Linked DNA regions of Homo sapiens. The protein of the gene in region 1 interacts with the protein of each later gene in a pairwise test. Each region holds a gene or a part of one and is shown on either strand. Other genes may lie near its edges.

Region 1 (4,255 bases):
GAGGCAGAAAATTGCTTGAACCCAGGAGGCGGAGATTGCAGTGAGCCGAGATCACACCACTGCACTCCAGCCTGGGCGACAGAGCAAGACTCCATCTCAAAACAAACAAACAAACAAACAAACAAACAAAAAACAGCTTCACCCCAGAGACGGTCAAACTGTCCTGGTGCCAAGTTCCATCCAGATATCACTTGGGGCCCAACCCTGGTCTTCTAGATCTCCAAGCCTGGAGCGGCCACAGGAGTCGGCCAGCAGCAACTCATTCGTGGCCCTCCCGATGCCGTACTCTACACATCTTAAATATCCCCACAGGGTGACATAGAGGCCTGGAAATTGCTGACAACAGGCCCTGGACATCAGGCATTACATCAGATAATTTATCAGCGGAGGATGGAACACCTGTGTGGACCCTCCAGAAACTCACGCTGAGAACACGCAGGCTCAATGAATTCCTCACACCTGCATGAATACGTCTTCTTCCTATCTCTGACTGTTCCTCTCATCTCTTTCTGCCCAGCCTCTAACTATTGTGATCTTTCAGGGCTTGGTCCTGGGACTTCTTCTTTCAAGTAGTATATTCTCCTTCACTGCCCCCAGGTAACTGTGCATAGCTTCAGTTTTAAACATCTTCTCTGTGTTTGTGACTCGCTCCATAAACAGCTAAATACCAGTTGGAAAAAACACAGGAATTTCAAACATAACACACCCAAAATGGAACTTCAACGCCAGCCCTCTGCAGTCTCTACTTCTCAGTTCACAGCTCCCTCATTGCTTCAGTTGTCTAAGCCATAAACCTGGAAGGCCTTTATTTCCTACTTTCTGTAATGTGGAATCCAGCTTAATTTCTATTATTTGACTGAAGTAAATTTAATGAACTTAAATCTCTGAATTTGAAGCCCAATTCACATTATTAGGGTGGTCTCAACAGCTACACGTCTTGAATTTTTAAAAAATTGTCTGAGACTCTCAGTATTTCCAGGAGACTGGCAGAAACAAATGCAAATTATCTCTGGAAAAACGCACAGCTGTGGCTGGGCACGGTGGCTCACGCTTGTAATCCCAGCATTTTAGGAGGCCGAGGAGGACGGATCACTTGAGGCCAGGACTTTGAGACCAGCCTGGCGAAACCCCATCTCTACTAAAATTACAAAAATCAGCCAGGCCTGGTGGCGGCCTGTAATCCCAGCTACTCAGGAGGGTGAGGCAGGAGCATCGCTTGCATCTGGGAGGCAGAGGTTGCAGTGAGCCGAGATCATGCCACTGCCCTCCAGCCTGAGCAACAGAGCGAGGCTCATCTCAAAAACAAAAACAAAAAAGGTTGAAGAAACAACAGGAGTATCTCAAGAGAAAAAGAACTTGATAAATTCAACATTGATTCATAAAAATTCTTAGTAAACCAGAAATAAAGGGGGACATCCTCAATTTGATGAAAGGCAGCCATTAAAAAAAACTATAGCTAGGGCCAGGTGCGGTGGCTCACGCCTTTAATCCCAGCACTTTGGGAACCTGAGGCAGGCAGATCACGAGGTTGGGAGTTCGAGACCAGCCTGACCAACAGAGTGAAACCCCGTATCTACTAAAAATACAAAAATTAGCTGAGTGTGGTGGCACTCAGCTACTCGGGAGGTTGAGGCAGGAGAATCGTTTGAATCTGGGAGGAGGAGGTTGCGGTGAGCTGAGGCTTCGCCATTGCACTCCAGCCTGGGTGACAGAGCCAGACAGCATCTCAAAAAACAAAAACAAAAACAAAAACAAAAACAAAAACAAAAAACACAAAACAACAACAAAAAGCGCTATAGCTGTATCAGAATTTAGAGTGAAAAGACTTAATGTTTTCTTTCTTCCTAAGATCGAGAATAAGCAAGTGTCCACTCTCACCACTTCTGTTCAACACACTGCAGGTCTGAGCCAGTATAATAAGGCAAGAAAAATTCAGAAAAGGCTTACAGACTGGAAAGGCAGAAATAAAGCTATCTATACTCATATACTGCATGACTTTGTAGAAAATCCTGAAGGATCTATTTATAGAAATCCACTGTCTAATGAGTGAGTTTTGCATAGTTATAGGGTACAAATGTCAATATATATAAAACAATTCCATTTCTATATACTTGCAATGAACTAGAAATGAATGAAATGTCAATTAGAAATTGATATTTTAAAATACCGTTTACAGTGGCTGTAAAAAACATAAAATACTTAGGGATACATCTCCAAATACATATAACATTTTATGCTGAAAGTGACAAAACACTGATGAGAGAAATCGAAGACCTAAATAAATGGAGATATTTTGTATTCCTGGACTGAAAGCACCAAATATTGTCAAGATGTCAATTCTCCCCAAACTGATCAACGGATTCAATGTAATATGAATAAAAATCCCAGCGGTCCATTTTGAAGAAGCCAACAAGCTGATTTCAAAATTTATGTGGAAAAGCAAACAACCTACAGTAGCCAAAACTATTCTGAAAAAGAATAAATTTGGAGAATGCACAGTACCTGCTTTCAAGACTTCCTACAGAGTTATCAATCAAGCCAGTGTGCTATTGGCAAAGGGAAAGAGTCAACCATCAATAGACCTATTAGAGTCACAAATAGACGTGATCGCATATACCAGTTGATTTTCAACAAAGGGGCCAAGTAAATTGAATGGACAAAGGTAGTGTTTTTAACAAATGAAACTGGAACAAATGGATACATGTGAGTCAAAAAATAAAAATAGAAGGTGGGGGGAGGAGAGGGTTTGCACCATTCTGTGAACTGTATACAGATATTAACTCTCAGTGGTTCATAGGCCACAATGTAAAACCGAAAACCATAAAACTTTTGGAAGGAAATCTTTGTTGGCTTTGGCAAAATTTCTTAAATAAGACACAAAAAGCAGAAGTCATAAAAGAAAAAACTTGATAAATTGAACTTCATCAAAATGCAAAACCTCTACACTTCAAAAGACAGTATTAGGAAAATGAGAATACAAACCATGCTGGGAGGAAATATTTGCAAAATTTATCTGATAAATGAATGCTAAACAGAACATATAAAGAAATTATAAAACTCAAGAGACATACAACCCAATTTAGAAAAGGGGTTTGTACATGTATTTCACCAAAGTTGAGATAGAGGGAAAACAAACACATGAAAATATGCTCAGCATCATTAGTCATTCTGGAAATGCAAATTAAAATGACATACCACTACCCATCTATCGGGTCGGATGTAGTAAAACAAACTGACAATACCAAACCCTGGTGAGAATACAGAGTAACTGAATCTTTCGCACGTTATTGGTGGGAAGGCAAAATGGCACAGGCAATTTGGAAAACAAGTTTGGCAATCCCACCCTTAGACAGTCAATCAAGAACTATGAAGCTGTGCCCACACAAAAATCTGCTGCTAATATTTACAGCACAGAGCTGGAAACAACCCATGTCCGTAGAATTGCAAAAGGATAAGTAAATTATGGTATATTTATACAATGGAATATTATCAACAATAAAAAGGAACAAACTACTGATACACGAAGCAGCCTGGACGTTCTATATGTCAACTGCAGTATGCTGTCAGCCTCGAAAGGCCACACACTGTAGGATTCCATCGATAGGACATTCTGGGAAAGGCAAAGCTATAAGGACAGGAGATATAAACCCTTTGTTATACATGCTGAATTTCTTCCCCAGAAGTTTTAAATTTTTAAGCAGTGGAATCTGCCTGCAATCATGTTTCATGGCTGGGGAACTGGTAAAGAATCTGCAGCCAGGCGTGGTGGCTCACGCCTGTAATCCCAGCACTTTGGGAGCCTGAGGCGCGTGGATCACCTGAGATCAGGAGTTCAAGACCAGCCTGACCAACATGGTAAGACCTCGTCTCTACCATAAATACAAAAAATTAGCCAGGCGTGGTGGCTCACGCCTATAATCCCAGCACTTTGGGAGCCCAAGGCGCGTGGATCACCTGAGATCAGGAGTTCAAGACCATCCTGACCAACATGGTAAGACCTCATCTCTACTATACAAAAAATTAGCCAGGTGTGGTGGTGCATGCCTGTAATCCCAGCTACTTGGGAGGCCGAGGCAGGAGAATCACTTGAACCCAGGAGGGGGAGGTTGCAGTGAGCCAAGATCGCACCACTGCACTCCAGCCTGGGCAAAGTGAAACTCTGTCTCAAAAAAAAAAAAAAAAAAAAAAAAAAAAAAGATTTTGCATGGGAAGAGCTTTCATATGAGATCATACAGTTATTTTTTTGATCCTTATC
Region 2 (3,352 bases), on another chromosome or scaffold:
CTAATGTATTATCTAGAAGTAAGTTGTGAAAGAAAAAAGAGAAACCCAATCTCAAGTTGCCCAACTGATTAGAAATGCCATCTCCTTCCCCTAATACACTCCCTCTCCCTGGGGAGTTTGAGTTTCTTCTGTTGGCTCCTTTGCTGTTTGTGTAAATGCTACAGTATAATTGTCCCCTCCAATGATTCATGCAGCAATCAAGAGACTACCAGCAAGGAAACTCTAAAAGGAATCCTGGAAGTGGAACAAGTCACTCGTAAAGGTGTTTCCATTTTACCAGTCAATGCTAACTGGACCACAGCTAACTTGATCTTCAATGCCAACATCACAGAGCCCCTTTCGCCACCTCAAAAACTGCACAAACATGGACAACCCAGAAACCCAAAACTTTATTGATTAAAACAGATTTTGGATTCTCCTAGGACCTGCTCCAAATTCCATCAAGAAAAGCTCCCTGCGAAGAGAAGTTAACAAGATAACATATGATGGATGCTAAATATTTAAATATATGCCGGCAGCGGTTACATAAGGCCTGCTCAGTTCTGAGATCTATAATTGGGAGGGTCTAACTAGGACAGGGAAAATATAAAATAAAAGTAATCTTCCAGAGTGGAACAAAAAAGAAATATATTCATCCGACAGTCGTAACACCATTCATGTGCAGTGATTTTTTTATAGTTTTATAATTTTGTATTGTTTTATAAATTATTTATAAGGTGTTGTAATGCTTCTTATATTAATTTTTTACAGATAAATTTTTTGCTACAAGGCATAAAAAGGTGCCTGAACCGATTCTTAGGAATATAAATTATACTGTGTAACTCATAAGTCTTTGGGACCACACCTAATGCTTAATTTTATGATGACATTTCTCATGTCTACTTGTAAACAACTTCATATGCCAATGGCGTTTAAGTGTCTTTTATGTTTCCATGAACTGAAGGTTAAGGTTGCCACCCACAAAAAATAAAAGCCACTTTGGGCATATGTGATTGTATTTCAAGCTTCAGTATTTTTCTCACATAATTTTTAATTATTGTTATCTGCATTTTCATTACTTCATGAAAAAATGACAGTGGATATTACATTTTACACTTGTTTATAGATTTTCTTTCTTTTTCAACCAAGAAAATATTTTGAACAATTGAAACTTTTAATTGCATTTGCAAGGTTTTGGCTTCTTTATGTTGTCATCACACAGATGCACACACACATACACATACAACACAAAAGAGAGAACAAAAAAGCAAAAGGAGCTAGGAAAAAAACAAAACAAAACAAGTAGAGGTGTATCAAAGAACTCAAGCTATAACCAAAAAGAAATCGTAAAATGCCTTTGCTCGTTTCTCTACGCTGGACCAAAGCTCAATATTTGTAGGTATATGCACATTGTATAGATATGGCTAAATGTTGCTGACAATCTCGCAATACTAAACTGTTCCTATTTTAAGAAAAAAAAAAGAAATACAAACTGTTCATCAATGTTTTACCTCAGCACTCTACTTGTACCCAGTTAATGACCAAGCTTAAAAAAAAATTGAGATAAAGGAAATTGATTTTCATTTCAATGTTTGACTGTAAAATCTGTTTGGATAACATTTTGTAATGAGCTTTTTGTCATGTGATTTGCTTGTCTTCAACTTGAAATTATGTGAGGCACATTTGTTTATTTGTTGTTAAGAAAGTGATTTTTTTTTTTTTTTGTCCTATGTGCTGTGATCTAGACTGGTCACCGGGGTCACTTATGAGGCACCACAAAGAGATCTGCTTCTCCGTGCCCGGAGCAGGCAGCAGGAGGGAGGGCAGGAAACAGGACTGGGTTGCTTTGGAAAAATCATCATGACAAGAAGTTGACATGATAGACTTGTGACCAAGAAGCCAAACTGAATATTTAAAAGCTCCTTACTTGCTCTGACATTGAAACCAAAGCTGATTTTATCTGCACAGGTTGCTTAATATTTAAAAAAAAAAAAAACTGTACTTAATCTAGAGCAATATCTGTATGGTCAGTAAAGCTGCACTTTGTGTATTTCTTAACAGCTTCAGATCTGTCACTTTTAATTTGTACCATAAAAAATAAATAATTGTTTGACATGAGCTTCTAGGCTAAGTGTGTCTCACACTCAGATATGTCATTTAAGTTGTCAGCATTTTAAAAACTGTACATTAAAACCCCAAATGTTAAGGAAAGGAAGGGGTTCAAGACAGATTGGTTAATATCATGATTATTTTAACTTTTCAAATGACATATTGTATTCATTGGGACTCTTTTGGTTGCAAGTTATAGGAATTCAACTGAAACTTGCCTACACATAAAGGTACTGTGTTGTTTGACTTAATGGGAAGTTCCGTTGTGGACCTGAAGCACAGCTGGATTCAGTGGTTTCAAAGATGTCATCAGCCTGTCCTGCTTGGCTTCCTTCTCAGATGGATTCTCTAACCATTGACTCTAAGGCTTTGAATCATTGCGCCCTTCTCTAAACTAAGCACTGGTGCTGCGGGGTGATGCACATAAATTCATGGTCACAGGCTCATTCCTGTCTGTGGGGGGAGGGTGGGGCCTCACTCTGACGACCCTGTGGGACCACAAGGATTGAAAGAGGAGTACACATAAGAACCGGAAGACAAAAAAATAGAGCCATGGTAATGAGCAGACAAAACCCAGAGCCACCACATTCTACGACTAACACCCAGCTGTGTGCCAGGTGTCGTAGAGAGTTCTGTTGGTGAAGAGTGATCTGCTAGTCTAAGTAATGTCTGTAATGGCATGTTCTGGAAAATTGGACATTTGGCATATGTTCCTGCTTGAAGTTTAGTGTGGGTAGGAGGGGAGAGTGAATGTTGTTATATAATTCACTAATTCAGAAAATAGGATCATCTTGCTAAAATACCAGTAAAAAAAATTTAGAGTCATAATCGCCATACTTTCAGTGACCTTTAGCAAACATTTTTTATGCTACATGGAAATCTGTGTATCAACTTCATACTGTGATTGATAAGAAGTGCTTTGGAGTGAGCAACAAAACCAAAAATCCAAATGACCATGCATTATAAATGAGCCATGAAGGGGCCAGGGAGCTCCAAGCCTGACTTTAAAAGGGGCAAAAGAAAAAAAAATGCTGATACTTCTGCCTTGAAGGGTGGGGAAAAAACAAAAAATAAAGTCATTTTCAATGGCTTTCTTTCCATATTTAATATTCTACAAATATTATTGGCAAAGGTCCTGCCTATGATTATGCCTATTATGAAATATGTTTGACCTAGGAAACTCTAAAATGTCTTCTTTAAAAAGGACAGACATCATTTACATTTAATCATTCCATATTCCACAAATATCTGCTAAGCATTTAAT
Region 3 (4,255 bases), on another chromosome or scaffold:
CTTCCTGCCTCGGCTTCCCAAAATGCTGGGATTGCAAGCGTGAGCCACTGCACCTGGCCTCAAAAATCTCTTTGAGACAGGGTCTCACTCTGTCACTCAGGCTGGAGTGCAGTGGCATGATCACAGCTTATTGCAGCCTTGACCTTGTGCACTTAAGTGATCCTCCCACCTCAGCCTCCCAAGTAGCTGTGATCACAGGCATGCACCACCATGCGTGGCAACTTTTTTGTAAGGTGGGGTCTAACTATGTTGGCCAGGTTGGTCTCAAACTCCTGAGCTCAAGCAATCCTTCCACCTCTGCCTCTGAAAGTGCTGGGATTACAGTTGTGAGCCACTGCACCCAGCCTGAAAAATCTTATAGCTTGTGACTGTCAGAGAGAGAATTAGAACCCAGGTAGTCTGACTTTAGAACCTAGCTTTTAATTATGTTCTGTTCCTTTCCTGTGACAGTAGCTCCTTCATAGGCTGGCTGAGAGAATTAAACATCCACAAAAAATGTTTATTTATTTATTGAGATGGAATCTCACTCTGTCACCCAGGCTGGAGTGCAGTGGCATGATCTCGGCTTACTGCAACCTCTGCCTCCCGGGTTCAAGCCATGCTCCTGCCTCAGCCTCCTGAGTAACTGGGACTACAGGCATGCACCACCACGCTTGGCTAATTTTTTTGTATTTTTAATGGAGACGGGGTTTCCCTATGTTGGCCAGGCTGTTCTCTCAAACTCCTGACCTCAGGTGAGCCGCCCGCCTTGGCCTCCCAAAGTGCTGGGATTACAGGCATAAGCCACTGCGCCCAGCCGAAAAATGTTTTTTTAGTTAAAGAATGTTGAACACCAATAAAATATAGAAAATAGTGGAATGAACTCCATATGTCCAACATCAATAACCAGCCACTCATGGCCAGTCCTGCCCCATCCACTCTCTCACTTTCAAGTGATTTTTTTTTTTTTTTTGAGATGGCTCTCGCTCTGTCACCCAGGCTGGAGTGCAGTGGTGCGATCTCGGCTCACTGTAAGCTCCGCCTCCCGGGTTCACACCATTCTCCTGCCTCAGCCTCCTGAGTAGCTGGGACTATAGGCACCCGCCACCACGCCCGGCTAAATTTTTGCATTTTTAGTAGAGACGCAGTTTCACCGTGTTAGCCAGGATGGTCTCGATCTCCTGACCTCGTGATCCACCCGCCTCGGCCTCCCAAAGTGCTGGGATTACAGGCGTGAGCCACTGTGCGTGGCCTCTCACTTTCATGTGATTTTTAAGCAAATTCCAACATGTATTTTTTTCAAAAATATTTGTGTATCTTTAAAGAATAATGGTGTTTAGCAGAATTAGCTAGATGGTGGGGATGGACTGTAAGAAGGACGGGCATGACTGAGTAGAGACAAGATAAGGCATTATTAGCGGGGTTAGGAAATGAATGATGGTAATCTAGGCTCTTAATGGTTGCAAAGTAGAGCTAAGTGATCATTTGGGCAATACAGAGAAGGTGAAATTGATACTTTGGTAATTCATTCGTTTCTTCACTCAGAATTTTGGACACATATGATGTAGCTACCAGTGTGCTAGTGATGGGGCATAAAGTTGCTTTTTGTTTGTTTGTTTTTTAGAGACAGAGTCTGGCTTTGTCACCCAGGCTGGAGTGCTGTGGTGCGATCACGAATCACTGCAGCCTCGACTTCCTGACCTCAAACATTCCTTCCACCTCAGCCTCCTAAGTAGCTGGGACTACAGGCATGAGCCACCTCACCCGGCTAATTGTTTTATATTTTTTGTAGAGAGGGGGGGTCTCACTATGTTGCCCAGGCTGGTCTCGAACTCCTGGGCCCAAGTGATCCCCCAGCCTTGGCCTCCCAAGTGCTGGGATTACAGGCGTGAGCTGCTGTGCCCAGCTACCTATAATGTTTTAATAAGAAAAGACCACTTTCTTGTACTTTTAGACATTAAAATTTAATGGAAAAGAGAGGAGATGATAAGTAAACAAAGAACTGAACATAATTACAAATTGGGATGAGAGCTGCCTTGGGAATGTAGAAGGAGCTCTTAGACAATAAAAAGATTGGCTTTATATTGGATGCGGGGCTCACAATGAAGGTCATTCTGAGGAAATTACATTTAAGTTGAGCAAGAAATGATGAAGAGGAAGAATTAACTGTGTGGTAGGGTTCTGGGAGAACTCAGAAATCAGGGAGTATTTCTCTGAAAAAAGGACAAATAATTTTTTTTTTTTTTTTGAGATGGAGTCTCGCTCTGTCGCCCAGGTTGGAGTGCAGTGGCACAGTCTTGGTTCACTGCAACCTCCCAGGTTCAAGTGATTCTCCTGCCTCAGCCTCCCGAGTAGCTGGGACTATAGGCATGTGCTATCACACCCCACTAATTTTTGTATTTTTAGTAATAATAATAAGTTTTTTAAAAATAAGAAAGATGGCTGGGTGCGGTGGCTCATGCCTGTAATCCAAGCACTTTGGGAGGCTCAGGTGGGCGGACTGCTCGAGCTCAGGAATTCGAGACCAACCTGGGCAACATAGGGAGACCCCATCTCTAAAAAAAATACAAAAATTAGCTGGGCTTGATGGCACATGCCTGTGGTCCCAGGTACTCAGGAGGCTGAGGTGGGAGGATCACCTGAACCTGGGGAGGTCAAGGCTGCAGTGAGCCATGATTTTGCCACCACACTCCAGCCTGGGTGACAGAGCAAGACCCTGTCTCTCAACAACAACAACAACAATAATAAAAGATAAGAACTCTTTCCCTGTAATCCCAGTGCTTGGGGAGGCTAAGGTGGGAGGATCACTCGAGCCCAGTAGGTTGAGGCTACAGTGAGCCTTGGTCACACCACTGCACTCCAGCCTGGGCAACAGAGCGAGACCCTGTCTCAAAAAACAAACAAAAAACATAGCTTTTTTTTTTTGAGACGGAGTCTCACTCTGTTGCCCAGGCTGGATTGCAATGGTGTGATTTTGGCTCACTGCAACCTCTGCCTCCCGGGTTCAAGCTATTCCTGTGTCTCAGCCTCCCAAGTAGCTGGGATTATAGGCATGTGCCACCACGCCTGGCTAATTTTTGTATTTTTAGTAGAGACGGTTTCACCATGTTGGCCAGGCTGGTCTCGAACTCTTGACCTCAAGTGATCCGCCCTCCTTGGCCTCCCAAAGTGCTGGGATTACAGGCATGAGCCCCTGTGCCCTTCGAAAAAAAAGAACTTTTTAAACCTCAGTATCATTGCTCTGTCTTTAAAAAATTAAAGATTTTCTTGTAATACCAAATATCCTGGCTGTATTCAAATTTCCTTTTGGCTGTAAAATGATAATTTTTTTCATTAAAAAAAATCAAGATCCAAATAAGCACACATATTATGATGTTACGTCTTTTCAAATCACTCTTAATCTAGAGCTTTGGTTTTGTCTTCATCATTTTTTGGACGAGCAAACTAGGTGGTTTTGCCCTGTTATCAGCACATAAAATGTTTAACATTCATTATCGTTACAAACTCCTTAAAGACACATAAAAAGGTTTCATTTTAGAAAATGTCTTTTATTTTCCCCCAAATATGATGGGAACAGCTCAATATTGTGGTGCAGTATTGCAATATTAGCTAGTCCACTGATTAATGCTGCCAACTCCTGTGCTTGTAGATAAAGTACAGTCTGTGTGGGTCGGGATGCAATTTAATGTGTTGAATGGAGGGCAGGTAGCCAAGGCAGTTGCTTTGAAGAACTGGAAAAGGAGTCTCTTTCTCAGACACTGGTGGGAAAATTGTCATGAGAAATGTACAGTTCTGGAAGGTGTATGGTGTGAATGGTACACCCTGAGACGTGGTGTTGTGCGGTGCACAAGACATACAACTGAATAAGGCACTCTTGGTGGGGCTCGCAGAAGAGGGCCAGCATCTTATTTATTTATTTATTAATTTTGAGATAGAGTGTCACTCTGTCACCCATGCTGGAGTGCAGTGGTGTGGTCATGGCCCACTGCAGCCGTGAACTCCTAGGCTCAAATGAACCTCCTGCCTCAGCCTCCCAAGCAGCTGGGACTACAGGTGCGCACCACCACGCCTGGCTAATTTTTCTATTTTTTGTAGAGATGAGGTCTTGCTGTGTTGTCCAGGCTGGTCTGCAGCTCCTGGCCTCAAGTGATCCTCCTTCTTCAGCTTCCCAAAGTGCTAGGATTACAGGCGTGAACCACCGCACTCCGCCAAGGGTCAGGGTCTTTAAAGACTCCTGGATTCTGTGGGAGGGCACCTAGGTGTGAGGCTGGCCCTG
Region 4 (4,255 bases), on another chromosome or scaffold:
CTCCTTTTTTTTCATTTCTCTCTTTTAATCGCCTTATGTCTCTTAACCTTTCATATTTTCTCTATTTCTATCTCTTATATTCTGGGTAATTTCCTGAAATTATCTCCAAGTTCATTCATTCTTTCTTGGCCAAATCTAATTTTCTGTTTTTAGCCCATCCATTTAGGTTCAATACCTGCATTTTTCATGTCTAGAAGTTCAATTTATCTTTCTTTCAAATTTGCCTATTTTTGTTCTCACTACAAAAAAAAGATAGGTATGTGAAGTGATTGATATGTTAATTAACTTGATTTAATCATCCCACAATGTATATATATATTAAAATATCACATTGTACCCCATAAATATATAAAGTTATTATTTGTTAATTACAAATTAGAAAATTTCAAATTTACCTGTTCTGTTTTTCATGAGATGTTATTCTTTTCCCAGATTTAATCATTTTTAATTAATTTATTTTACAGTCTCTATCCTATAGTTGCATTACCTGAACTTCTTGGAGGCTAATCTGACTACTTTTGTGTCTGTGACTCTTACTCAAGGTGGATTGCTTCCTTGTGTGTTTGTAATTTTGGATTGTGAGTTTCTATCTGGTGGGACTCTACCTATGAGGATCCTCTATGACCTATTTTGAGGCTGTTGTCCCTCCAGAGGAATTTTGTGATTGCTTCTGCCAGACATCTCAATGTTTATGTTAATTCTTCTGCTCAGGGATTCCCAGACCATGAGGCCAAAGTAAATCCTAATCCCACACACAGGAATGGCATGGACCTGTGATTTTGAGTTTTCAGGGGCATAAGTTTTCATCTCCACACTCAAATACCGACCCAAGAAAGAAAAGCTTCCTTGCCACTTTCCTTTTCTCATTAGCTGATACTTTTCCTCTTACCCACCATAATTTATCCTTTAAAGTTTCCAGCTTTATGCAGGATCAATAGAGTCTTACTTCCAAATCCCCACCTGTGTGGATGGGACTTTCCTGTCATCCAAGCCCCTAGTTACAAAGTTGACCCTACATCTCCCATAAGCAGTGTCAACTCCTGTGCTTAACCAGTCCATTTGTGCTGCTATAACAGGATGCCACAGACAGAGTAATAATAAAGAACACAAATTTATTTCGAACAGTTCTGAAGACTGGGAAGTTCAAGATCAAGGCACCACCATTTGGTGTCTGGTGAGGGCCTTCTTGCTGCCTCCTAGCATGGTAGAAAGCAAAAGAGTAGAAGGCTGTAGCCAAATACTTCATGAATCCTCTTTTATAAGGACCCTAATCTCATTAAAAAGGGAGGACCTTTCATGATCTAATCACCCCCGAAGGCCCCACCTCTTAATACCATCACATTGGCAGCACCTGAATTTTGGAGGAGACACATTCAAACCATAGCAACCAGTCAGACCTTCATTCCTGGAATGCAAAATTTTCTTTCTTTCCTGCAAAGCCAGCTATTAAATTGAATGTCTGTCACATTTTATACACCATATAAAAGTGTTTACAGTGGGAATTTCTTGTGTTATCTAGTCTACTGTATTTTCTGACCATTAAAGCTGAAGTCATTTTAAAATTTGATATATTATTCACAATTGCAGGGTAAATGTTGTCCAGACTCAGAGTTTAAGAAACACTTTCCTGTTGGAAATCCAGAAATTCTTCCTTCATCTCTTCCAAGTCAAGCTGCTGAAAATCAAACTTCCACGATGGAGAAAGATGTTCGTCCAAAGACAAGAAGTATAAACAGATTTCCTCTTCATTCTGAAAGTTCATCAAAGAAAGCACCAAGAAGCAAAAACAAAACCTTGGATCCACTTTTGATGTCAGAGCCCAAGCCCAGGACCAGCTCCCCTAGAGGAGATAAAGCAGCCTATGACATTCTGAGGAGATGTTCTCAGTGTGGCATCCTGCTTCCCCTGCCGATCCTAAATCAACATCAGGTACTCAGCCTCTGTTCTCTGCTTACCTTTCTGGGAACCATCCGCACAGTGTCTTAAAAAAATCCAAGACCTGAAAGATGTTCACAAATGTTGTGGCTGAAAAGGCCGTTTTCTCTGACTCCCACTTCTCTGGGTGCCCAAATGCACTATCTCGTAGCACTTACCACCTGGTTTATTTGCATCACCTCCGAGAGACTGAGTCACCTTTGACTCAAGCCAGGTCTTTGAAGGTAGAGCCAGGTCCCTCTTCTCTGTGTCTCCAGCTTCTAGGCCAGGGATTGATTTGGAGCAACTGCTTCAAAACTGTTGAGTAAATGAATGAATCAGAGGATACCCAGTCTATCTCTCTCATGGTGTAGATATGGCACTGAGGCCCAGAGATGAGATGTCTTGGTCAAGATCCTAAGCCAGTTGGTGGTGGCTTACCTCCAGCAGATCAAGGTTTGCTTCAAGAAGATCAGGGTTTGTAGGCATCTCCCTGAATATCATGATTTTTATGTCCTAGGTTATTTTCTAGTAATAATAATAACTGGCATTAGAGGTTGTTAACCATTGTGTGCCAGTTACAATACAGAGCTCTTTATAATCTTCATCATAAACAATAGGCATGCATTTTATCTCCATTTTACAGATAAGGTGAAGTAGCTTTCCAAGGAGTATACAATTAGAAGGTGGCAGGATCCAGCCTGAGTCCACATGTATATAGCTCCAAAGTTTATGCTCTTAAGCTCCAGATTAAATGCCTTACTTAAAAAATTTATTTTTTTTCAAAATACATAAGTACTAGATTTTGTTGGAGCTAGTTGATATAATATCATATAAAGAAGTATAAAAGCAAAGCTAACCCTAATTCCCCAACCCCATACCCTGAGATACCACTTTGGACAGTCTTATGGGCATCTTTTCAAAGCTCTACCTTTGCATATACAAGCCTAAACAAGCATATACTGGGTTTTACTTGTTTCTTTTTCCACACATATTATCTTACTATACTTTTTACTCTGCCACATGCCTTTTTCACTTAGTATATGATGCATGCTTCTTACAAAAGACTTAGTATGCCAAAACCTTTTTTTCTAACTTCCTTGTGCATCTATGTATGCACATAAGCATATAATTTTACAAAAATGGGTTCATTTCATATTTGCTGGGGGTGTTACTAGTGCCATTTTTCCTTGCCTCCCACAATTTGGTATATTTCCTTTCACAGTTTTCTCCATCCTTATATAACAGAGTCGCCAGATTTAGCAAATAAAAATACAGGACATTCAGTCAAATTTGAATTTCAGAGAAACAAAGAATTGTTTTTAGTGTAGGTATATTCCATGCAATGATTGTTTTGCTAAAATTAAAATTTAACCAGGACACCCTGTATTTTATTTAGCAATTTCTTATATAACCACCATACAAACATACACATTTGGAGTCCTGTTATATACATTTTTTCACTTTTTTTTTTTTGAACCAGTAAAGCTGCCATCTTTTTTTTTTTTTTTTTTTTTTTGAGACAGAGTCTCGCTCTGTCACCCAGGCTGGAATGCAGTGGTGGGATCTCGGCTCACTGCGATCTCTGCCTCCCGGGTTCAAGCGATTCTCCTGCCTCAGCCTCCTGAGTAGCTGGGAGTACAGGCACCCGCCACCACACCCAGCTAATTTTTGCATTTTAGTACAGATGGGGTTTCACCATGTTGTCCATGCTGGTCTTGAAATCCTGACCTCAGGTGATCCACCCGCTTCAGACTCCCAAAGTGCTGGAATTATAGGGCATGAGCCACCACGCCCAGCAACATTTCTTTACATCCTAATGTAAATTCAGCAATACCCAAGGAAATCCCTACAAACAAAACAGTGTGGCTTATTTTTATTAATGGCTGCCTAAGATTCCATGGTGTGAGTGTTCTCCCATCTGTCCCTCCACCCAGTGATAGCAACAGGCCCCTGTTAAACTTTGTCGCAAGCCTCCTATACTTCTGGCTCAGTGGGCTCCTGACCTTTTCTATGCCATTACACTCCAGTCTTTGGGCAGGGCTCATGCTCTGTAACAAGGGACAGCAATATCCAGAGATATTCTAGGAGCTAGCACTTCTTACTTTAACCATATCAAACTTTTTTTATATCCATTTCTTAGGAGAAATGCCGGTGGTTAGCTTCATCAAAAGGAAAACAAGTGAGAAATTTCAGCTAGATTTGGAAAAGGAAAGGTACTACAAATTCAAAAGATTTCACTTTTAACACTGGCATTCCTGCCTACTTGCTGTGGTGGTCTTGTGAAAGGTGATGGGTTTTATTCGTTGGGCTTTAAAAGAAAAGGTTTGGCAGAACTAAA
Region 5 (4,255 bases), on another chromosome or scaffold:
GGCTGCCCTCTCTTGGCGGCACCGTCCCACCCCGCCTGCTGCACTGAGCCCGCTGGGCCTGGGGGACTCTTGCTCAGTAGAACCCGAGGCCAGCAAAAGCTCTTAGCCCAGGATGGCTGCAGCAGCGACAGTCCTGAAGGCTACAGAGACACCTGGAAAGGGAACAAGGAGAGCACGACAGTCCCTGTGCTGAGGATCCAGGGTGGTGGCGGCAGGGGTTAGTGTACAGTCTCGAGAAAACAGGGCGGCGGCAGGGGGCTGCACTGACCTCTATACACCGAGAGGGTTTTTAAAGTTGAATGACAAGGGCACAGCTACAGGAACGACCCCAGGAAGAAGTCCCGTGACGGCTGGAGTCAGAAGCCCCTGAAACAAGCACCTCCCCAGTGAGGCCCCACCGTGTACCCAGGGTGCTCATGACCACCCCCAGGCTCTGCAGCCTGGCCAGAGACCACCGAGGCCCCAGGAGGGGCTTCAGAGATGGAGATGAAGCTGCATCTCCGAGCCATGAGGCCCAGTGGGGCCCGGACAGAGGGAGCCTGGTGTTCACACACCACATCTGTTTTCCAACAAAGTCAAAACACGGTGGGTCCTTTCAGAAGATCCCCAGCACCCGACACTTCAACTCAGACTCCAGGCGTCGGGCGAGGCCAGACCCAGGAGATCACAGCCTGTAGCGGGGACAGAAAGGTGTGCACTCCTGGAAGCGTCCAGCAACTTCTCTCTTGTTCAAGTGGCACCCCAGGTCCAGAGCGGGGCTTGTGGGGAGAGGAGCACGGGGGCTTCGTCCTCGGAGGCGCGGAGCTCCAAGCAAGGGCTGAGCAGCAGCTGGGAGTCTCCCGGAGGCCAGAACATTACTGGCCCCGTGTGCACATGCGCCTTCTTGGAGTCCCAAAAGGCAGATACCACGTATCCCACCAAATATCTACTTACAGATTGGGAAATTGAGGCAAAAAGCTCAGGTAATTCCCACAAGGCCACAGAGCTGGTAAGCGGTGGGGTTGAGATTCAGTGGCAATGGGCCGAGGTCTCCTGGGTGTGGTGTGGACCCTGATGGTGAGCAGGGTGGGGACCTCCTCGAGCCCCCATGGAATCAGGCTGCTTACCATCACCTTCTCCGTGGCACCGGCCCCTACCACCCTGCTGAAGACCCTCCTGGGCCTCTCCTCACGTCTCCTTTTCCTGCCCCTCTCTCAGGAGAGCTTTCCAAGCTGATGGCCTGACTGTGCCACCCCAACCTGGCATTTGAAGGCCTTCAGGAGTGAGGCCATGTCCATAACCCGCGTCTCCACTGAACCCTACGCCAGCCCCTACACGAGCCCCAAGCCTGGCTGCTGCTTTACGACACACCTCCATACAGCCCCTGCCCTTCACCCCTGCCCAGGGAAATTTACTGGGCACAGCGCCTTGCCCGCTGCCCCACAGCAAAGAATGCTGTCCTGCCAGACACTACAGACAGCAGTGGACACGCATTCTTCCAGAACCAGCCCAGATCCTGCCTCTAGGGTGAGTTGCCTGATGGGTCTTGACTCCGATCTCCTACCCCGTGCAACACGGGGAGGGTGCTGGCCCTGCCTGCCCTGGCTCCTCAAGAGCAGGCTGGGGTTGCCTTTCCCGAGGGGTCCCCACTACACCAGCCCCAGTGTCGGAGGGGTTGGGGGTCAGCGCAGAGGGTGGCACGTACCAAAGCCAATGAGGCCCAGCGTCTCCCCACGGATGCGGGCCGCTCCCGAGGCCACCTCGCGGATCTGCTCCACGCTCTGAACCCGCGTGCCTTCCCGCAGTGCCTGGTACAGCCACGTGTTCCTCCGGTACAGGTTGAGGATGTGGCAGATGGTAGAGTCCGCTGTCTCTTCCACGGCTGCAGACGGGATGTTGCACACGGCAATTCCTGAAAGGGATGAGGCCAAGGCCGGAGATGAGAAAACCTCAAGATCAGTGGGGAAGCCCCAGGGCTCCCAGCCCGCCCTCCTGAGACTCGGTTGTTGGCACCGGGGGAGGCCCACCTTATCGTCTAGCAGACGCGGGGCTGGGCACGTGGGCGGTAGGCCCTCTGGCTCTGATGCATGGGAAGCTCTAGCCCCAACATCTACCCCTCCCTCCCAAGGAGGACTTTTGCTCCAGGACGTGGCTCATGACCAACCCAACTCCTATGGCTGATTTTGGGCCTGACTGGCTTCCTCCTGGGCTTGCACTGAGTCCCAAGAAAGGACCCGGAGTGGCAGGAAGCCAGTGGGCCTCAGACCAGACTCCTCCAAGTGGACCCCACTCAGCCTCAAACCCCTCAGGGTCTCCCTCATGGAGCTGGCAGGGTGACAAAGAATGGCTTTTGGTTTTAAGCTATGCTAACAGTTTGATGCAAAAAACATACGTTTTAAACATACTGGTTTTAAAAAAACACCTCCACCCCCACACGGATGCAAGGGCTGGCCCCGGGAACGGAACCGATGGCCGAAGCGTGTGCACAATCGCCCTGTGGTCATGTGCTCAGCACCCTGCTCTGCTGGGAAGAACTCAGAGCAGACAGGATGCCCTCCCTGCCCCGTGGAGCAGCCTTCAGGTCAGGGCCGAGGGTGGCTTGGGGTGAGCCCTCTGGCCCCACACGAGCTGCAGAGACCAGGGTCAAGTATCTCCCAGCACAAAGCAGCTGTGGCATGGAGAGTTAACCCAAGTCATAGGCAGAAAGGGCCCTGCCATTTACCCTCCTCAGCCAGAGGGTGTCTGGGGAAGAATGAATGACTGCCAGATACAACAGGGGTGCAAGTAGGCAGAGGGCCAGGCTGGGAACGGCCCCTCCCTACACCCGACAGGTGGAGATCCAGAGGCCTGCTTGCAGCAGAGACCAGAGGGGCCGAGCCAGGGGCGGGGCCCCAGAGGGTGGGCTCAGCAGCCAGCCTGTGGCTCCCAGTTGAGCTCTCTGAGGAGGGGTGTGGCTATCTGGGCATCACGTCAGCCCAAGTGAAATGGTTCCCTCCTAATCCCAGCTTTGGGACCCTTAGGAGAGTGTCTCTCCCAGCAAGGGGTGCCCAAGGCACTGGGACAGGGCCACCTTTAAGGCAGCCCAGGATTCCTCTATCTTAAGTCCTGAAGATTGGGGTGGGGACAGATTGGGGTGGGGACGGCAATCACCAAGGCAGCTTCTTCGGCTCTACTGGACAGGAAACAAGACCAGTGGGTGCCACAAACCCACTTTCTAGATGGCTGCGTGGCTGTCTCCCCACAAGGGCCACCCCTAGGTCTAGGGCCTTGAGAGTGACCCGCTTAGCAAGACACACAGCTCAGAGAAGGTGAAGCCACTGTGAGCAGGTCACCCACCCACCCAACGTGGCCACTGAGGGCTCCTCTGGGCCACCGACCCCTGCCAAGGGACCAGTGTGGTTGACGGTGACTGAGGCCGACCAACTTTCCCACGAGCTGGATGCCAGGAATCTTGCAGGAAACTGGCCTCATTCATTTGAAATAGCTCAGCAGAGAAGCTGGGGCTTGATCACATGCCATGTTATTATTAAGTCAGACAGACTGAGGCTGATGCCAGAGGTTCAAGAAAATCTTTGGCGGCTGGGACAATTTTCATTCCTCGGGCAGGCTAAAGCCCAGCAGGGAGGCCCCGCAGCAGAATCACCCTCAAGGACGCTGGCTCCGTGCTGCTGCCGGGGCTGGCTCGGCAGTGCTGCCTGGCGTCAACAGCAGCACCTCCTCCTAGGAGATGAGCTGATGCTGGCTGGGAGACCCCACAAGGCCACGTGTGTAAAGGCACCCGGGTGGGTGGGTGGCACAAAAAGGCAGGTTGAGGCAGGACATCTGGTCAGTCTTCTCACCGAACTTGGACATTCAGCTCCGTGGTTCCACTGCTCACCGGAGTGCAGAGTCCCAGGACGGGGAGATGGTGCAGGAGGAAGAGCTGCAGCCACTGCCTGGGATGGCAGAACCTTCCCACCCAGACCGCGGCGGCGCCACTGCCAGGAACCTCCATAACCCTCACCGCTCTCTCGGAGGGAGCATCTTCTTAGCTGTCCTCTATCGCTCTGTGGATGCAGCCTCCCTTCTGGATGAGTCAAGCTGATCCTTCAAGTGCCACACGATGGGTGGCTCTGATACTCGCAGGCTGGGCCTCCCAGCATCCACGGAGCCTGGAAAACGGCCCCAAAGAGGCAAGCTGCTTTTCTCTCACGGTCAGTGCCATCGTGCTTTAATCCCTTCATGACTGCCGCTGGCAAGGAAACCACATAAACCAGCTTGCTAGAGGCGGCGGGGG
Region 6 (3,998 bases), on another chromosome or scaffold:
TCTGCCTGTGCATCCCTCACCTCCAATTTCTGGCAGCCAATTATCTTTTTACTATCTCCATAGTTTCGCCTTGTACAGAATGTCATATAGTTGGGGTCATACAGTATGTAGCCTTTTCAGATTGGCTTCTTTCACTTAGTAATATACATTTAAGGTTCCTCTGTGTCTTTTCATGGCTTGATAGCTCATAGCTTTTTAGCACTAAATAATATTTTGTTGTCTAGAGGTACCACAGTTATTTATCCATTCGTCAACCAAGAGGACATCTTGGTTGCTTCCAAGTTTTGGCAATTACGAATAAAGCTGTTATAAACATCTGTGCACAGGTTTTTGCGTGAATGTAACTTTTCAACTCTTACGTGGTAGGATGTTTCCTTTTCCTAATTTTGATATGAGGGTATATGATGTGAGGACTGGTTAATTAAAAAGTTAAGTGAGAGGGTATCTGCCTTACATTCGCTTAGGTATTATTACATGCGTGTGGGAAAAAGAGGAGGAAAGACAGCTTGAAAGTGACTGTGTTTCAACTGTGCTGAGCCAATTCTACAGAGTTCAGTAATAGGACACTGGTTCCAGAGAAAAACAGGCTGTTTCTGTTACGGGATTGGTGAGGGGGAGCCAAATCTCTCACCCACAAATAAACCTCTGGAGGGTTTTCTGCTGAGTTTAACCTCCTCCCACTCCCAGCCTTGAAATAGATTCATTAATGGTAGGTGCTGAAATTATTGCACTAAAAGTTACCTTTGACTTGAGAGCCACATGGCTCTGCAGTCTTGGATGGCAAAAACGAAGGAGAGAACTTGTGAATTCCTACCGTTATGGTGGAGTGATCAAGATTATGAATTAGATGCCTGCTGGAATTCTCCTCTTACCCTTGTCCTCACAGCTCTCTTTTTCCCCTTCTACCTTCAAATATCACTACTTATAGCCTTTCCTTTATGTTTAAGTTTGTTTCTGATTCTTCAGGTTCTTATTTCTACATCTATGAGCATATTGACTTCAGGGACTGGATCTTATTAACTGTTTTATCCTCGTTATCTGGCACATAGCGTGTTCTCAGTAAGTACTTTTCGTACTGAGACAAAGGAGACAAAATTTTACAGAGAAGTCAAAAAGACTCCAACTAGTTTTCACATTAAACTTACTTCCAACTTGTGAAGACTGTTGAATTAAACAGAAGAAATTAAAGACAAAATTCAGCTTCCATTTGGGAGGGTATATCTAAAATGCAAAGATTGGCCAGAACCAGGGAAGATGACTTGCAACAGGAAGAACTTTTATTGAAACACCACCATAGAGAAAAAGCCAAAGAAATGGTACTATTCTAAAAATAACTTGTCTTAATTCATTGGAAGAAAAGCAGAAAAATAAGGGGACCCTTATTTAGGAAACTAGCTTCATTTTGGTATTTTAATTTGGGGGCCATTCTGTCTCAGAGGCTGGAGTTCAGGAAGACACCCTCTGTTCATTCTTGTTGTTGACTTTGGTGGATTTCTCTTCCACAGTGTGAACTCTGGATGAGAGAACTTTGCCACGAGGATCTATCTCTTCAACAACTGTTTTGACAATGGTGGTTTTAGATGAATCTAAAATGCCACATATAAACTGTTTAGAATTTATCAAATTCATAAATAGGAAATAAAACATCATTTGAAACACATACAAATAAACACTGAATGCCTAACACAGCTTTTGTTTACCTTTTGTTTGATTTCCTGGGCCTCCATAGCCTTTTGATTTAGAACAGGAGCTGTAAAAGTATAGAGCGCTTATATTAATTATTCTGTTTTACTGAGGAAACTGAAAAATAATGATTTAAGGTGGGAATTCACTGCATTCTGAAATAACACTAAAAGAGTATTATCTATGCGTGATCTAGATCATAGATATTTTGTACTTGATTTCAAATCATCTTTAGTAACCTTAAAAATGAATTGTTTTCTCAATGGCGGCAATACTGACCCATCTTCTCCATCTATCAGGAGGCAGTAGGTCTCAATTTCTTTTTCCAGGTGGACCTTGATGTCAAGGAGCTGCTCATACTCGAGCTTCTGGCCCTCGGTCTCGGTTCTGACCTGGTGCAGCTGCTCCTCCAGGGCCCCGATCTGAGCCTGGATCTGTGCCAGCTGTGCACAGTAGTTACTCTCGGTCTCTGTCAAGGAGCACTCCAGGGAGTGTTTCTGTAGTTTGGTAAGACATGGTTTAATAGAAAAGGTCACGGTGTTTTAGAATAAGCCAAAGCATTTAAGAGATAATTAAGAGAATTATCCTTACATCATGCAAATAATTATATTTACCCAAAAGATTCCACTTCTTCAATATTAATTGTTGCCTTTATTAAATGTCCTACTACTTTTCTATTTGAGAATGACACAGCTGGTGCTGAATGTCCCTCAGATGCCCAGGTGTGCTAAAAAAGATGAAATTGTCTCTTCATAGGGCACAGACTGAAAGATCCCTCCCCTGCACCAATATAGCCTGTGCTTGTAGAGTGTGGCACAATTTGCTACTTTACCCACAACTAGAAGTCCGCCTATACTTTGCTACTCATTTCTAGCCATGTGACAGTCTTGTCTTATGAGGATTGTAGCTCTTCTATTAAAAAGTCATCCTGCAGTAAACCGCATAAACGTTCCATGAGTAGAATAAACCACAGAAAATAATTACCTTCTTAGACTTTAAATACAGTAGTTCAATTCATTGGCTTGTGAATCTGAATGGGTTTACAGATATACTCAGAGGGAACACTCACTGCAATTTTACATGGAATGAAGATGAGAGTGTCTTATCCTTTCACCTGCAAGTATTTTTTATATAAAGTCTTGATTTTATATACATTCATAGCCTCATCTGTGGATAAACTCTGGTGGTTTACTAGCCATAGTGGGAAAAGTATAGACTTGGGAGTTAGAAAATTTGGAGAGAACTTCTGGATTCCTTCATACCCAACTGTGGGACTGTGGGAATTGCTTAACTTCTTCGAATCTCAGAGTCCTCTTTTGGAAATAATGACATGAGTTATAACGTCTGCCCTGCCCATGCCCCGGGGTTGTTGTGGACTCACATGTGGGCGGAAGTGCTGGGCAAACCCTTAATGAAAGCAGTTATGATTATCATTACACATGTTTAGTTTTATAGTCAGCCTTCATGCCTCGACTTTTCCTCTGTCTATGCCACTTACAAAGGAACTTGTAAGTGCTCTTAATTGAGTGGCCAAAAGGAATGCTAGATGAAGCTAGGAGTGGTGCAAATGTATTTTTGCTCTCTTTAAGCAGTAGGATTTTTTTTCTTTTTTTTTAAATGGACACATAAGAATTGTATATATTTATGGGGTTCCATAATTATATTTCAAAACACACAATGTGTAGTGATAGAATCAGGGCAGTTAGCATATCCATGGTCCCAAACATTTATCTTTTTTGTGTGTGTTGGGAACATTCAAAATCCTCTCCTTGAACTATTAGAAATTATAGAATAAATTATTCTTAACTGTAGTCATTCTACAGTACTATAGAACACTTGAACTGATTCTCCCTATTTCTCTGTAATTTTGTATCCTTTAACCAACCTCTTCCTATCCCCCCATCCCCTTCCCAGGCTCTAGTAAGCACTTATCCCACTCTCTACTTCTGAGATCAACTTTTTTAGCCTCCACATATGAGTGGTTTTTGATATTTTGACTTATGATAGAAGATTCAAAGTCAAAACGATTTTCTTTTTCCAGTATCTTGACTGTATTTGCTAATTTCTAATATTTCATAATTATTGGCATCCAGCTATACTTTGTAGGCAAAGAGGATTGTCATGTGCAAAATGCAAATATGTCTTATGTCAAGCACTGTAATTAATGGTTAAAAACTAAAATATGTAATTATGTTGGAAGAAAATTCTCTTCGATTATTTTTTTCTCAATTTCTAAAGCAAATCTGTTTTGTAACTTTTCGCTTACCGTTGCTAAGAGGGACTGAAGTTCAATCTCAAGGGTTTGAAGAGTGCGT
Region 7 (4,255 bases), on another chromosome or scaffold:
ACTGTTTGATATTACATCATCATCATCTACTGTGGGAATAAATTTTGGATCTGAAAATCAGGAAATCTCCTGACAACTAATCCATTTCTGGCTACCAGTAATTCAAAATAACTAGTTTTTTCCTTTCCCTCTCCTACCTAAAATTCCTCCCATTTTTGTCATCTTCCTTTATTTTTACTCTTCATTTCCTTTTGATTTCTTAAGCATAAGGGTCATAGGTTTGGTGCTAAGAGTTGGCTGACTAGACTCATTATCTCTGTGAAGTTAGCAACTCTTAACCTCAATTTTGAATTTGAACTTATAATATTGTGGTGTTTTAATAAAATCCACAGGCAATAAGAATACCTAAAGTAGCAGATGAAAAATAAAGCTCTAAATCTGCAAGAAAGAGAAGAAAATCCAGAAATAACGGTAATAATCCTATGATTAATAATCTGAGGCATTATCCAGACTATGACAACAGCACAGGGGCTTTCCCTTTTGAAATCAGCAATAAATGTAAAGCTCATTTCCACATATCCCAAAAATTTGCCTGTAAATCAGCTGTAAGTTAAAAACGTTTGGAAAGCATTTCCCTAAAGGAAAAAAAAAAAAAAAAGGCCCAATGTCTAGTCTCTGGGAATGTTACGAAAGCCTATTAAATTTGCAAGGAGCCAAAGGTATGGCAATTTCAATTTTGCCTTCCTGGAATTATAATGAACTAAACTTCTAAGATGAAATAAATTCATTTGGACCTTCACTGAAGAATTTATAGATGCACTATATACAATGCTTCAAGATTAATCAAACTTTTGGTTATTTGAATTGTGGAAAAGAGGACTTTTGTTCCCTTACAGAATGAAGTCTGCAGGCCAGGTATGGTGGTGTGCACCTGTCACCCCAGCACTTTGGGAGGCCTAGGCAGGAGACTACTCGAGTCTAGGAGTGACTGAGATGAGCCTAGGCAGCATAGGGAAACCCCAACTCTACAAAAAAAACAAAAAGATTAGCCAAGGTGTGGCGGTGTGTGCCTGTGGTTCCAGCTACTCAGCAAGCTGAAGTAGGAGGATCGCTTGAGGCTGGGAGGTTGAGGCTGCAATGAGCTTTGACTGTGCCACTGCATTCCAGCCTGGGTGAGAGTGAGATGCTGTCTCAAAAAAAATAACCACCCAACCCCCACAAAATTAATGGAAGTCCACATCTTAACTCCATATACATCAGTAATTTACATGACTATCTTTCCTAACACAGAGATTTATCTTATTCATACTCCTAAAGTGTAGTACAGTGCATAGTAGTACATAGAAGGTATCTAATAAATGTTTGCTTAGTAAATAAGTGGAGATATAAATCACTTTGGGATTAAACGTATACATTTATATACAGTTGGTGAGCTGCGTTTGCAGAGAACAGGCATATCATAAATAAAATATAAACCTACAATCCCTTATCCTAGATGCAGATGTGTTGCGAAATTCTTATTAATAAGTATTCATGTCTTAGAAAAGTTATCTGGTGTATATATTATGAAATGTGAAATACCCAAGTGATGTCTGTAATCAGGAATATTAAGATTTCTGCAAGGGAACACAAATATTCCTATTAAGTGAAATAAAAACTAAATACAATCTGCTCTATTTGCTGCCACCTTATCAATGGATTCTGAAATTATGGATAAGGGATTATAATCATGTAAAATAGTTTTAATTAACTTTAGGAAGTTTTATCATCTTTCTTCCTCAGCTATTTCTAGGAATGAAATCAAGCAGAACCTCAAAGGTCATAAATTGAGAAACTTAATATAGAAACTAAAAATGTCTAATTGGCTGCTAGCTTGTGCTTCAGTTAGTTAACAATATTTAACTTCCGCGTGTCATACATGCTCTACAGAAGGGGAATAAAGATAAAACAAGGCAGACATTTGCTGCACTCAAGTTGCTCACCAGTTCACAGGAACTTCTAAATTTGTCATATACTGATAGCTATATCAGTCTTTCAAGGATCACCTGGTTTACTTCTACTTTAATCCTAAATGTATCCTCTTAGTTTAACAGTATTTTTCATGATGTTTAAAGATTTCCTCAAAAGGCAATTTCATTTCTTCTTCTCACCAACCATCCCAGCCACAAAGAATATTAAAGATTACAGTCAGAAATGATTCTATGAATAAATAAACCCAGTGACTGAATTTGACCTAAGTTAAAAAACTAATTAATACCTTTCCATAGTAATTCCAGCCCTGGAGGCACTAGATAAAATGGCAGTCAGGGCAATTTGGGAAGGTGTGTATAAAAGGTAAGCATCCGTCAATGCAATTCTATTAAGAAAGTCATCAGCTGTTTTCCTCAAAATCTCTGGATTCTCCAATATGGGATAGCGGGTCTACAAAGAAAGTTTGCAAATGTTACCATTTCTGAGGGTTTAAATGGAGTATAACAACAGTTTAAAAATTACACAACTCCTATTAAGAAATATATGCTATAACATATCTAAAGTTCCTAGCACAGTAATTGACACTGTCCTCAATTTACATTAATCCCTTCTCTTGGTCCTTTTCCACCTGAGTAGGAAGGGGAGGGAAGGGAAGCTCTTAGAGATTCCATTGAGTCTAAAGTAGGGCCAAGAAATACATATTCCCAGGTAAATGCTTCTCTCAGGCAACCCAGGTGATTCAAATGTAAGGCCACATGTAGGAATACACCTTATTTTTATATGAAATTCCTTCTATTTAAAATTTGCTTTCAGGAAGAAGTAAATAAAAATGAATCTCGATTTGATTAGAACACACTAGACTTCGAATTCCCACAGAAAAAGTTTTAGAGTATGCCCAAGAGATGTGGAAGACCTCCTATTTCCTGACAGTTCTTCATACCCTATAAAATAAACTATAAATCCTAAGTCCTCAGATATCCATATGCAACACCTAAAGCACTAAGAAAGCTTTTCTACACTCTGAAACAAAATATTCAGAGTCAATTATGCAAAAATGCCTCACCTGTGATATGACAAATTCAGACCCACTACTCTGACCACAATGCCTCCCTTTCTAATATATTTACTCATTTACTTCACAGCTGTTCTCCCTCCTCTGAACCTTTGCTCACTTATCCCTCTACTTGCTCCCACTCACCAGTGTCCTCTGGTCCTCATTTCTCTCCTGAATTCCCTGCCCCAATATGCTGCCAACAAATTTCTGGCAAAACCAGAAACTGAACAGTGGTTGAATCCAACAAACTTTCGCTTTGCAACTATACCAAGATTTCTGAGGGCTGCCAGAGAAAACCATACAAGCAGAAGTCTGGTAATGTTACTATAAACTCATGTTCATTGACCTCAGCAAGGCTCTTAAACACTGCCAAGCAACCATAGTATTTCCACAGACAATTGACTCTCCTATTTTTCAGTGACTGCATAAATATTTTCCATCTGTCTTAATGTCTTTGATAATTCTCAGAAACTCCATCACTCTCAGAAAACTATCTCTTACCAAAGAAAGGCGCTATTTCCTGTCAACACCAAATCCTGAGGCATAACAGTATCCTAACCCATGATTTCCCCTTTTCCACTGTTAAGAGAAAGAGCTATTATTCCCTCTAAGGCCAGTTCTTATACCTTGCTTCCAAATCCCATGCCAACCCCCTTCCATCTTACTCCAAAGAGACTATTTTGTATTTCATCTTGCTCTCACTACTAGCTCTTTGCCTCAGTATTTAAATGTGCATCAGTCTCTTCCATAAAACAAAACACAACAACAAAAAAACTCTCACCCAGTCAGAAACCTGGGGGTTCTTCCTCTGTCTTCATCTCTATATGCAATCAATCCTCATGTTCTATTGATTCTACCTAACTACAGGCTAAGCATCACAAATCCAAAAAATTCAAAATCCGAAATGCTCCAAAATCTGAAAGTTTCTGAGCACTGACATGACACTCAGGAAATTCTCATTGGAGCATTTCAGATTTTGGATTTGGGATGCTCAACCAGTAAGCACAATGCAAATATTGCAAAATCAAAAAAAAAAAAAGTGTAATCCCAAGTACTTTTAGTCCCAAATTTTTTAGATAAGGGATACTCATCCTGTATCTCTGAAGCCCAGGAAGCTCTTTCTGTATCCACAACCTTCATACGAGTGAAGCCCAGCACTATCTTTTGCTTGGACTCCTTTAACGGTACCCTGTTATTGACTTAATCTATTCTAATCCATTCTCCACGTTATGCCTGACACATACAGATGCGCGATAAATACCTGATCCATAAGGTTGCCAACATGATCTT

The links.
Region 2: the proteins of TRIML2 (region 1) and POU6F2 interact in binary tests that used the Homo sapiens proteins (3 or more experiments, as listed by UniProt).
Region 3: the proteins of TRIML2 (region 1) and NFKBID interact in binary tests that used the Homo sapiens proteins (3 or more experiments, as listed by UniProt).
Region 4: the proteins of TRIML2 (region 1) and XAF1 interact in binary tests that used the Homo sapiens proteins (3 or more experiments, as listed by UniProt).
Region 5: the proteins of TRIML2 (region 1) and CTBP2 interact in binary tests that used the Homo sapiens proteins (3 or more experiments, as listed by UniProt).
Region 6: the proteins of TRIML2 (region 1) and KRT27 interact in binary tests that used the Homo sapiens proteins (3 or more experiments, as listed by UniProt).
Region 7: the proteins of TRIML2 (region 1) and CCNH interact in binary tests that used the Homo sapiens proteins (3 or more experiments, as listed by UniProt).

Annotation. Positions count from the first base shown.
Region 1 is NC_000004.12:188,092,363-188,096,617, forward strand, and holds part of TRIML2 (probable E3 ubiquitin-protein ligase TRIML2), read right to left. Parts: intron 661-4,255; coding exon of another isoform or gene 620-660; exon of another isoform or gene 428-619; intron 1-427.
Region 2 is NC_000007.14:39,466,505-39,469,856, forward strand, and holds the end of POU6F2 (POU domain, class 6, transcription factor 2), read left to right. Parts: 3' UTR 1-2,097; downstream 2,098-3,352. UniProt on the Homo sapiens protein: Probable transcription factor likely to be involved in early steps in the differentiation of amacrine and ganglion cells. Recognizes and binds to the DNA sequence 5'-ATGCAAAT-3'. Isoform 1 does not bind DNA.
Region 3 is NC_000019.10:35,890,516-35,894,770, reverse strand, and holds part of NFKBID (NF-kappa-B inhibitor delta), read left to right. Parts: intron 1-1,603; coding exon of another isoform or gene 1,604-1,711; exon of another isoform or gene 1,712-2,068; intron 2,069-4,255. UniProt on the Homo sapiens protein: Regulates the expression of IL-2, IL-6, and other cytokines through regulation on NF-kappa-B activity. Functions in the regulation of inflammatory responses.
Region 4 is NC_000017.11:6,769,056-6,773,310, forward strand, and holds part of XAF1 (XIAP-associated factor 1), read left to right. Parts: intron 1-1,587; coding exon 1,588-1,929; coding exon of another isoform or gene 1,930-1,986; exon of another isoform or gene 1,987-3,294; intron 3,295-4,057; coding exon 4,058-4,114; 3' UTR 4,115-4,255. UniProt on the Homo sapiens protein: Seems to function as a negative regulator of members of the IAP (inhibitor of apoptosis protein) family. Inhibits anti-caspase activity of BIRC4. Induces cleavage and inactivation of BIRC4 independent of caspase activation.
Region 5 is NC_000010.11:124,996,280-125,000,534, forward strand, and holds part of CTBP2 (C-terminal-binding protein 2), read right to left. Parts: intron 4,173-4,255; exon of another isoform or gene 3,573-4,172; intron 1,892-3,572; coding exon 1,685-1,891; intron 1-1,684. UniProt on the Homo sapiens protein: Corepressor targeting diverse transcription regulators. Functions in brown adipose tissue (BAT) differentiation. Isoform 2 probably acts as a scaffold for specialized synapses.
Region 6 is NC_000017.11:40,775,553-40,779,550, forward strand, and holds the end of KRT27 (keratin, type I cytoskeletal 27), read right to left. Parts: coding exon 3,950-3,998; intron 2,181-3,949; coding exon 1,963-2,180; intron 1,751-1,962; coding exon 1,701-1,750; intron 1,587-1,700; coding exon 1,447-1,586; 3' UTR 1,256-1,446; downstream 1-1,255.
Region 7 is NC_000005.10:87,402,647-87,406,901, forward strand, and holds part of CCNH (cyclin-H), read right to left. Parts: intron 2,362-4,255; coding exon 2,198-2,361; intron 1-2,197. UniProt on the Homo sapiens protein: Regulates CDK7, the catalytic subunit of the CDK-activating kinase (CAK) enzymatic complex. CAK activates the cyclin-associated kinases CDK1, CDK2, CDK4 and CDK6 by threonine phosphorylation.